Homo sapiens: one gene and its partners. The protein of the gene in region 3 purifies or fractionates together with the protein of the main gene of each other region. This does not show direct contact. Each region holds a gene or a part of one and is shown on either strand. Other genes may lie near its edges. The genes, in order: MRPL45, TFE3 and NUP155.

The links.
Region 1: the proteins of NUP155 (region 3) and MRPL45 purify together in Homo sapiens (affinity purification with mass spectrometry, with the first as the bait; one large-scale study listed by BioGRID). This does not show direct contact.
Region 2: the proteins of NUP155 (region 3) and TFE3 purify together in Homo sapiens (co-immunoprecipitation; one large-scale study listed by IntAct). This does not show direct contact.

The regions. Positions count from the first base shown.
Region 1 is NC_000017.11:38,295,590-38,299,339, reverse strand, and holds the start of MRPL45 (large ribosomal subunit protein mL45), read right to left. Parts: upstream 2,173-3,750; 5' UTR 2,157-2,172; coding exon 2,091-2,156; intron 892-2,090; coding exon 714-891; intron 1-713.
Region 2 is NC_000023.11:49,036,854-49,040,503, forward strand, and holds part of TFE3 (transcription factor E3), read right to left. Parts: coding exon 3,602-3,650; intron 2,558-3,601; coding exon 2,254-2,557; intron 1,590-2,253; coding exon 1,344-1,589; intron 1,262-1,343; coding exon 1,157-1,261; intron 1-1,156. UniProt on the Homo sapiens protein: Transcription factor that acts as a master regulator of lysosomal biogenesis and immune response.
Region 3 is NC_000005.10:37,308,596-37,312,245, reverse strand, and holds part of NUP155 (nuclear pore complex protein Nup155), read left to right. Parts: intron 1-1,502; coding exon 1,503-1,694; intron 1,695-2,673; coding exon of another isoform or gene 2,674-2,724; exon of another isoform or gene 2,725-2,823; intron 2,824-2,978; coding exon 2,979-3,117; intron 3,118-3,650.

The DNA of each region.
Region 1 (3,750 bases), on a different chromosome or scaffold from region 3:
GAAGAAAAAAATTAAGAAAGTGTTGAAAGATTGAGAAAAACTCATAAAATTGAAGTAATGTAAAATTGGGAAGGATTGTGGATATGAAGTAGACTAATGAAACAGACTTCCATGTAGAGAGAACTATGTTACACTAGAAAAAAACAAAACAAGGCCGGGCACAGTGGCTCACACCTGTAATCCCAGTACTTTGGGAGGCCGAGGCGGGCGGATCACAAAGTCAGGAATTCAAGACCAGCCTGGCCAAGATGGTGAAACCCCATCTCTACTAAAAATACAAAAATTAGCCGGGCATGGTGGCAGGTGCCTGTAATCCCAGCTACTTGGAAGGCTGAGGTAGGAGAATCGCTTGAACCCAGGGGGGCAGAGGTTGCAGTGAGCCCAGATTGTGCCACTGGGCGACAGAACGAGACTCTGTCTCAAAAAACAAAACAAAACAAAACAAAAAAAGCCAGAAAGATTTAAGTCTTCTCTCAGAGCCTCAGTTTCTACTTCCACAAAATGGAGAAATTTCACTCTTGCCTTCTAGGGACAGTGTGAAAGTAAGTTCAAAGAACAACTTCATGATATATAGTGTATATAAGGTTAATCATTATTGAGGTTGAACTGACTTCGTGCTTAATTAAATATTATCAATCATAGTCCAAGTCATCCCAAGTTCCAGAAGATCTCTGACAGAAGGATCCCAGGTCAGGGTCCCAGAAATACCTCACCTGTACAGGCCAGATGTATGGAACGGTCCGATTTTTCTGGAGGAATAACCAATCCTGCTTTCCGGGCATGTTGCATAAACTCCTTTTCTGTTTTAAATTTAGGTTGATAAATAGGAGGTGTGAAACGTTTTTTAGTTCTTACTGGAACTATAGCTGCGGACTGAGTCACCAGAACTGGCTGGAAGGTAAAGGAAAGGTTAGGAACCTAGAAAAAAGATCTACTATCTTTTACAAACTCTAAGCAAAGCACTATAGAGAGGGAATATCCAAAGAATGCTTCAGGAACAATTATAAAACAATATCACAGGGAAAAAATGCATTAGGACCTTAATACTTATGGGTGTCTCTAAATAGAAGACAGTTAGCAACCTTTATTAACATCACATTTACTAAAGGCTTTCCTTTAGAACTTCCCACAGTACAGGACTATGCTAACTCCTACGGATACTGAGTTGATCAAAGCAAGTTTCAAAAACTGATGGTGATGGGGAAACACCAACTCAATACTGAAATGGGCAGAATACTATTCTTTATTATTTTTTGAGGCAGATCGCTAGCCTAGAGTGCGATGGCACGATCACGGTTCACTGCAGCCTTGACCTCCTGGGCTCTAGCTATCCTCCCACCGCAGCCTCCCAAGTAGCTGGGACTAAGGAGTGCGCCATCGCATCTGGCTAATTTTAAAATTTTTTTGTAAAGACCAGGTCTTATATGTTGCCCAGGCTCATTTCGAACTCCTGGGCTCAAGCCATCCTTCTGCCTCGGACTTTCAAAGTGCTGGGATTACAAGTGTGAACCACCGCGCCGGGCCCTGAATGCTATGCTTAAAGCATAAGCAAAGTCCTCTTGTAGGCATCTGCTCCATATGTACTCGTGATATTTTGCTCATCCTATCGGGAGTCTCGCTGTAAACTTTATTCTGTCGTTTTAGCACCCAACTGACCAATAAACCCTCGAAAGATCAGGAGATCTTTTCTCTCTGATCATGAGGTTTGCTCAGACGGGGCAGTGACAATATGGGACGCCCTCATTTTCGGCTACTCTTCAACGTAGTTCACTTATAAGAATCGAAGATTAGGGAGTCCACCTTCCAACCCATTACTTGTCTCTCCTTTAATATCTCCTCGCCAGACAGACCCAAACCAATCCGGAAAAACTTAATATCCGTTAATTCACTCGCTCTCATGGCCCTGTCTAGGCTATCCCCATTCGACCACTGAGCTCCGCAGCTAGGTCCTGTCCACCTAAGCCTCTTCCCCGGCCTAGGTATGACTCGTATTGTCCCAGCTCACCAAGGACAATTGCACAGAGAGTATTTCCCTCGACTCTGTCCTCTCCTGTAGCCCCTAGGGTCCTATCGGCCCCGTCCCTACCCACCTGCCGAGACCACCAGCCCAAAAACCTCGATAAACAAGAGAACCCTTGAGGTATGGGGGCTGCCATCTTGTTCCCGCAAAGGCCGCCGGGAAGGGAGCTGAGAGTGAAGAGCGTCGGGTAGGAGAAAAGCCGCATAGGGTGGAGCTAGCACAGGAGTGGAATTTTCCAGGGAGCGCGCCCTCCGCCGAAATGTGAGCAGCGAGGACGCGCACGTGCTCGCGGGAGTGGGGGAGGGTGGAGTAAGGAGGGCGGAGTACGGCCGCGCGTGCGCAGGGAGACAACGTTGGGCGTAGGGTGGAACGAACTGTTGTCCCCCGCCAGCGAGAGAGCGCTTGAACGCGAGCTGCGCCTGCGCCCGAGGCTTTCTGAAGGCCGGGGAATGGGCATTGCTGTATGCTTGGCACATTGCCGTTTATTCCATTAGTTAAAAAAGGAAAAGGAGGCCGGGCGCGGTGGCTCACGCCTGTAATCCCAGCACTTTGGGAGGCCGAGACCGGTGGATCACCTGAAGTCAGGAGTTCGAGACCAGCCTGGCCAAAATGACGAAACCCCGTCTCTACTAAAAATACAAAAATTAGCCGGGCGTGGTGGCACACGCCTGTAGTCCCAGCTGCTTGTAAGGCTGAGGCAGGAGAATCGCTTGAACCCAGGAGGCAGAGGTTGCAGTGAGCCGAGATCGCGCCACTGACTCCAGCCAGAGCTAGACTCCGTCTAAAAAAAAAAAAAAAAAATTAGTCGTAGGGTGGAACGCACGGTTGTCATGCGCCAGCAAGAGAGCGCCGGGCTTGGTGGCAGGCGGCTGTAGTCTGAGCTACTTGGGAGGCTAAGGCAGGAGAATCCCTCGAACACAGGAGGCGGAGGCTGCAGTGATCCGAGATCCCGCCACTGCACTCCAGCGTCGGTGACAGAGAAAGACTTTGTCTCAAAAAAAAACAAAAAAAGAGATTGACTACTGTCTTCTACTATGTTTACTAAAGCAGAAGACACGTGAATTGACAAAAACATTTGTGATTTGTCATTTCGGAAAGGAGTCACAGAGCAATTACGTAATTTACTTAAGGTTAGATAGATGATAACTGGCAGAACCGAGATTTGAATCTAAGCAGTCTAATTCCAGAACCCATGCAGGTAACTGCTACGTGCTGCTTCATGTTAAGTTGTTAAAGGATTCGTGATGTTGGGATCACCCTGGTAAATTCAGTAGTGTAAACGTTGCTGAAAGGCAGACACTTTCCACACTTAGCCGTTGGTTATTATTCTGCCAATTACAGCTTACAGAGTTCTCATCTACAATATTTTGCAATAAGTTAGGAGCTACAGGCTGTACATACAAGAAATTTCAGGCTGAAGTAGAATTGCTACAAAGGTCGAAGCAAAGTGCTGGGGACTATCAGAAGAACTGAAAGATTACTTTTGGGTTTGGAGATCACGTGTTGTTGTTGTTTTTGGAGACGGAGTCTCACTCTGTCACCCAGGCTGGAGTGCGGTGGCACAATCTCGGCTCACTGCAACCTCTGCCTCCCAGGTTCAAGCGATTCTCCTGCCTCAGCCGCCAGAGTAACTGGGATTACAGGTGCACGCTGCCATGCCCGGCTAATTTTTTCTAGTTTAGTAGAGACGAGGTTTCACCGTGTTGCCCAGGCTGGTCTCCAACTCCTGA
Region 2 (3,650 bases), on a different chromosome or scaffold from region 3:
TCAAAACCAGAATGTTACAATGGTATATCCCTTGCTCTAGAAAGTTTTATCTACTGACTAGAAGGACTCTGCCTCCTGGCACAGTTCACTTGGTATATTCCAATCACTACGAGATCCAACTACTTGTTATAACCCACAGCAAGTTTGAAAACTTTTGTTATGCTTCAAGGCCAGGCGTGGTGGCTCACACCTGTAATTCCAGCACTTTGGGAGGCCAAGGCAGGTGGATCACTTGAAGTCAGGAGTTCAAGACCAGCCTGGCTCACAGGGTGAAACCCGGTCTCTACTAAAAATACAAAAATTAGCCAAGCGTAGTGGCGTACACCTGTAATCCCAGCTACGTGAGAGGCTGAGGCACGAAAATCGCTTGAACCCAGAGGCTGCAGTGAGCCAAGATCGCACCGCTGCACTCCAGCCAGGGTGACAGAGTGAGACTCTGTCTTAAAAGAAAAAAAAGGTAAAAATAAAATAAAACAAAATGCTCCAATCATTACATGGTCTGGTGTATATGTCCCGATGACCTGAATCCCTTGGTACATTCAAGTTGCTATAAGATGCTCATCTCGGCCGGGTGTGGTGGCTCACGCCTGTAATCCCAGTACTTTGGGAGGCCGAGGCAGGCAGATCACGAAGTCAGGAGTTCAAGACCCGCCTGACCAACGTGATGAAACCCCGTCTCTACTAAAAATAGAAAAATTAGCTTGGTATGGTGGCACGTGCCTATAATCCCAGCTACTCAGGAGGCTGAGGTAGGAGAATCGCTTGGACCTGGGAGGCAGAGGTTGCAGTGAGCTGAGACCGCGCCACTGCACTCTAGCCTGGGTGACAGAGCGAGACTCCGTCTCGAAAAAAAAAAAAAAAAAAGATTATCATCTCTTGGTACTTCTCACAGCAAAGCCCAAGCACTTTGATATGCCCTACTGTCTCAGTGAACTCCCCACCTGTATCTCTCACAGTCTACATGGTCCACCTCTCAACACAGTCCAACAAGGTCCAAAGGCATTGTTGACATACCCTGTTCTCGTCATAAGGCCTCCCTCTCTATCTTAGCACAATCAAGGCAAGGGTCTCCTATACACACAGCCAGACTGAGTATGGTCTTGGTGATACAGAAATGCCCTAATTTTCAGACCAACCTCCCATCTCAGGGCCTCACCGTGCTGGGGAGCTGCAGTCCTGTGGTGCCTCCGGGCAGATAGCTGAGCATTTCATCATTGTAACTGGACTCCAGGCTGATGATCTCATCAATGACATCATCAATCTAGGGGAAGAAGTAAATATTATACAGGTTTAGAAGAATTTGGGAGGGGAATGTGGGAGGAGGTTTGGCTGTAGCCTCTTACCTCCTTCTCTGAGCTGGACCCGATGGTGAGCAGCGCCATGGGGCTGTTGGGCGCACTGCCTGTGGGGCCGGTAGTGTGGGCAGCCTCAGGGGCAGGCAGTGGCTGGGCACTTGCGGGCCCCGGCGGTGGGGTGAGGGCCTGGGAAGCCAGCTTGGGCCCGAGTGTGGTGGACAGGTACTGTTTCACCTGCTGCCGGCGCGCCTGCTGCAGGTGGTAGCGCGTTGGGTTCTCCAGATGGGTCTGCACCTGTGAAATAAGGTAGACAAGGAAAGAGAGGGGACAAGGCAGAACAGGACTCAAAGGGGTGAATTCTGAGCCCCAGCCTGACCCTCCTAACTCATTGGTGCCTAGACTCACGCAGACAAGCTGGGCCCAGAATCTGAGAACACCCCAAAAATATTAGCGAGTCTCCCCCAGGACCCAAACTCTCTTTCTCAGAAATCCTTCACAGCTGCCAAGATCCACCCATGACTGACAGGATCCCTCGTAGTTTCTGGAAAACCCTGTCACAGTCCCCAAGATTCCCCACCTAGTCTCTGACACCACCTAATAGACCTGGGAACCATACAATGCTTCCCAAGACCCCCTAATGGCCAAAGAACTAATGTATCCCACACACATGAAGCTCTTCCTACAAAGCCAGGGCCCACTTGGGGCACTCATGAGCCTCCATGGTCCACCAAGACATCCTCATGGCCCCCACGAACTCCTCGCAATTTCACAAGATCATCTCAGAAACCCAAAACACATGAGACATGAACACAGATAATTTAAACAGTACCAGGGACCTTCCTTAGAGCCCCTAAGACCTTGCCCCCAAATCACCAGTGCATCGAGGCCATCCCTAGCTCCTAGGATCACTCCTCAGTCACCAGGAGCCCCCTCCCAGGGCCTCTGGATCTCACCTTACCTTGAGCACCTCCCTGGGCACCTGAGCAGGGGGTGGACGGCTCAATGTGTGGCCCCCAGCAGAGACGCCAACCACAGAGATGGCAGGAGAGGCAGGTGCAGGACTGGGGAAGGGAGCCGCGGCGGCCTGTTCCCGACGCTCACGCCTCTCCTGCTCCTGCGCCTGGGCCCGCATTAGCTGCTGCCGCAGCAAGACCCTCGATGAAGAAGATGACGACATGGCAGGGGTCCTGGAGCCCCCTGCAGAAGACGATGCAGAGAGTGTAGCTGGGGTGGCTGGTGTGGCCTGCAGTGATATTGGGAGGCTGTGGAATGGGAAATATGGGGCCATATTTTAGGTAAGCTAAAAGTCTCATCCCAAGCCTAAAGGGTCTTAGCGTGACGGAGCAGACACAGGAACCAGGCCTGTTCTCTGCCTTCCGAGGCCACAATGTAGAAGCAGAGACACAGGAACCAGGCTTGGTGATGGCTCTCAGGGGTCACAGTCTGATGGGGGACACACTGGAGGTCAGTCTGGTGGGGGAGTTTTAGCCTTTGGTCCTTATGGTGAAGCCTAGATTTGAGCCTGTTCACATATTAAGTGGAGATGCTATTGTTCAGCTCTGCAAGGGGGGGTTTGTCCTATTTACAGGAGAGCAGAAGAAGCAGAATTGAGGCTTTGGCAGCAGAATGTGGATACAGAGGGCTCCTAAGCCCAATGTGAGGCTAGAGAAGCTCTCTGAGCTCCTGGGGGTGGGCGTCAGGTGATAGGAGAAGCCCCAGGTTCCTCTTCTTCCCCTGCCTGGGCCTCTGGTCCCAGGAGCTAGTCAGTCTTGAAAACCTCGGAGATTTCACAATACTCTCTTCCTGCCCCTCTTCCCCCTCCCCTCCCCTCTCTCAGAGCCCGGGCCGATGACTCAGCACATTTAGACTTCCAAGCTTGGGGAAAGAAGAGACCAGCAGGGGCTCCTCAAGGGCTGAGGGTGGGTGAGTTGGTAGTGTGGGAAGGGACTGAGTTGGGGCTAGAGGCATGTCCCCGCCCACCCGGGGACATGAGTTTAAGCAGGCCACGCCCTATCTCTGAGCACTCCAGGCCGGCTGGAACACCTGAGGCTGAAACACTTGCATATGAATGGGTGTGCAGGTGGGCTGGGGGCAGGCAGGGGAGGTCTTGACAGAGATACTGGAATCCTAGCTTGGCCACCTACTTTCCTGTGTGACATGCTCTTTCTGGTCCCTAATTTTACCACCTAGAAAACGCAGGCTGGTGAAAGAATGGGTTGGGCTGGTACTGAGGGCCTCTGCCCATCAAGAGGGGAGAGGAGGGCTGAGGAATTGGGAGGGGAATCAGATAGACAAGTCATACATACCTTGAGCGAAGGGGTAAGGGTTGGCTTTTGAGCTCGTAGAAGCTGTCAG
Region 3 (3,650 bases):
GTTTATTCATCAGACTGTTAGAAGATACAAAAGGTTTCGTTGTCCTTCTTTTAGTTATACTAAGATAAATTGCTGGATTCAAGTAGTAAGCCTAATACTGCCATTGTGGAATTCTCCATCAGATTTTAATCATCCATTGATAATCATTGCTGGAATTTATTATTTCATTTAGGATTACAAAAGGGTAATATTTATTTATTTGTTTGTTTGTTTTTTATTTTTTTTGAGACAGTGTCTCATTCTGTCACCCAGGCTGGAGTGCTGTGGAGCAATCTGAGATCACTGTAACCTCCACCTCCCGGGTACAAGCAGTTCTCCTGCCTCAGCTTCCCGAGTAGCTGGGACTACAGGCATGTGCCACAACGCCTGGCTGATTTTTGTAGTTTTAGTAAGAGACCGGGTTTCGCCATGTTGGCCAGGCTGGTGTTGAACTCCTGACGTCAGGTGATCTACCTGCCTTGGCCTCCCAAAGTGCTGGGATTACAGGCATGAGCCACCATGCCCGGCCAAAAGGATAATATTTTAAATCTGTGATTCCTTCCCCAGTTACTAGCTGCAATTCTGTAAAAAAAAAAAAAAAAATTCTTTTTCCTTGTCCTGTATGGATATTTCATTACTCTGAAACACTTACTTTTTGACTCTCGTATACCATTTTTCAACGTTGGAAGGCAGTCTCCTCATTCTTTCCACTAGTGTCCAATGAATAGTGTGGCTTTTGTTGGTGGTTTTGTTTCTTTTAAATACATACTGTTTTTTATTTTTAAAAATTCAAGCTAATATATTTAATTATGAAACTTATCTTTTTCATACCAAGTAGAATAATAATTTTGAGTTTTATAGAGTGATAAATATATTGTAGGTAGGTTTTTATCCTGGGTATGTTTTTGTGATCCATCTTCAAAGCTCTCTTCCTTACATCACCAATGGCATGCTCAATGAATGCAAATTAAAGATTTGTTCAAGAATTTTAACACAGTTTGGGTATTTCCTTGAATTTAGAAAAAAGAGATAGCAGTCACATCACTAACAGAATCTTTTACTATAGTATAAATCAATACTTTAGAGCTTCATTTGGACAAGCAGATTTGTTCACAATACAGATTAAACTCCAATATTATTATAAGGCCTAGAATAATGGAATTCTAACAGTGTTTAGGAAGGAGTAATATGTAAGCCCAAGATTTTCAAATATAGCCAAGTGATTGTTTTTTCCATTTTATAACCAAAGCCAGGAGATCTGACTCTAGTTTTGGCTCTACTTAAGCTTTACTTTTCTCATTTGGAAAGTGAGAGTTTTGGACTAGATCTACTGTAGGTTCTTTTCCAACTCTCTATGATTTTATGTAAGTTCGCAAAAATTTGTTTCTACTAATTAGTATATTTTCGCTTTTCAATTATAGAGTCTATTAATATTTAGGTTATTTTAATTTATTAAAATAATTTCATTATGTTTAGAAATATGGTATTTCTATAATTGTGATAGAAAAGTTTTATGCTCCTAGGAACTTCAAGAGCAGCTGAAGATCACCACCTTTAAAGATCTTGTAATCAGGGACAAAGAACTCACAGGGGCATTAATTGCTTCTCTTATCAACTGCTACATCAGAGATAATGCCGCTGTTGATGGCATTAGTTTACATTTACAGGATATCTGCCCACTTCTATATAGCACTGATGATGCAATTTGTTCTAAGGTATGATACTTTATTACCTATTTCATTGTTTGTTATAAGAGGTATCATGTATGATGAACCATCTTGTTTCACTTAATATAGGACCTCAGTCAGTTAGATCTCTTAACCTCTCCTAGCCTCAGAATCCTCATCTAAGAAAGGGGTTGGAATATGTGGCTTCTTAAAACCAGTGTATACTCTTTTAAGCTTAGCTTTTCTTTTTAAAAATATTTTTATTTATTTATTTGACACAGGGTTTCACTCTGTTGCTTAGGCTGTAGTGCAGTGCTGTGATCATAGCTCACAGCAGCTTCTAAGTCCTAGACTCAAGCAGGCCTCTCATGTAGCTAGGGGCTACGGGTGTGCACCACTACACCCAGCCAATTTTTTTGTTTTTTATAGAGACAAGTTCTGATTTGTTGCACAGGCTGGTCTTGAACTCTTGGCTTCAAGTGATCCTCCTGCCTCAGCCTCCCATAGTGCTGGGATTATAAGTGTGAGCCACCATGCCCAGCCCTCCTTTAAGTTTTTCATAAAGAATATTCTCTCTTTTTTTTTAAGACTGAGTACGATCTCAGCTCACTGCAACCTCCACCTCCCAGGTTCAAGTGATTCTCCTGCCTCGGCCTCCCAAATAGCTGGGATTACAGGTGTGCACCATCACACCTGGCTAATTTTTTATATTTTTGGTAGAGACAGGATTTCACCATGTTGTCTAGGCTGGTTTTGAACTCCTGACCTCCGCCTGCCTCAGCCTTGCAAAGTGTTGGGATTATAGACATGAGCCTCTGCGCCTGGCCCATAAAGAATCTTTGATAGTGTTTCTAGGCCATATTAAAAAACCAAAGGTGAGAAATTAAGAAAAATCACTAAATTTAGAAATTAAGGAAATTTAGGGGATAATTTATCTCCTTAGCTTAAGGAAAAGTACTAAAACTTCAAGTAAATCTTTTAGTGAATTAGAGTTAATGGGGGCATTTTTATTGATCCTTTCCTACAGGTGGAAAAAATAAATAAATCAGTGTCACATGGACTGCCTGCTGCCCAATAATGTATTGACTAGGCAAGAGAATTACCAGACAAAAGTTCTCTTGCTTAACATATTTGGGAGAGGAATTAAGAATAGCTAGGAATCTTTGGTCAAAAACTTTTCTGCCTAAAATTAAGAAGTAAGTTTGTAGAGTTGTTTTCATTTTAATGGTAATAACCATATATAAATTTAGACATAGACTAAAACTTAGTTGACAGCATCATCTGTCTGCTTGATTTTATATATTTTTAAGTTCTTGTTATCTCCTCTTCTAGGCAAATGAGCTTCTCCAGCGTTCCCGACAAGTTCAAAATAAGACTGAAAAAGAAAGAATGTTAAGGGAATCATTAAAGGAATATCAAAAAATTAGCAATCAAGTGGACCTTTCCAATGTTTGTGCTCAGTATAGACAAGGTGAGAAATAAAATGTTTCTTGTATCTTTTACTCAACTCAAAAGACAAACAATAGTGTATGAATGAAGCAAGCTAATGATGAAAAGCCACTTTCCAGATGCAAATCTTCTTTCAGCATCAGAGGCCGAGTGAAAGGACGTAGGAATGTGGTATCATTGTGTTGCAATATTTGATGACTACACTGACCTGCAGAAGCTGTAATGTTCTTTCTATTTTTTGAAATGTACTTTTTTTTTTTTTTTTTTTTTTTTTTGAGAGTCTCGCTCTGTCAGCCAGGCTGGAGTGCAGTGGCACGATCTCAGCTCACTGCATCCTCTGCCTCCCAGGTTCCAGCAATTCTCCTGCCTCAGCCTCCCGGGTAGCTGGTATTACAGGCGCACGCCACCACGCCCAGCTAATTTTTTATTTTTTTATTTTTTTATTTTTTTTATTTTGAGACAGAGTCTTGCTCTGTCACCCAGGCTGAAGTGCAGTGGTGCGATCTCAGCTCACTGCAAGCTCTGCCTCCCAGGTTCACGCCATTCTGCCTCAGC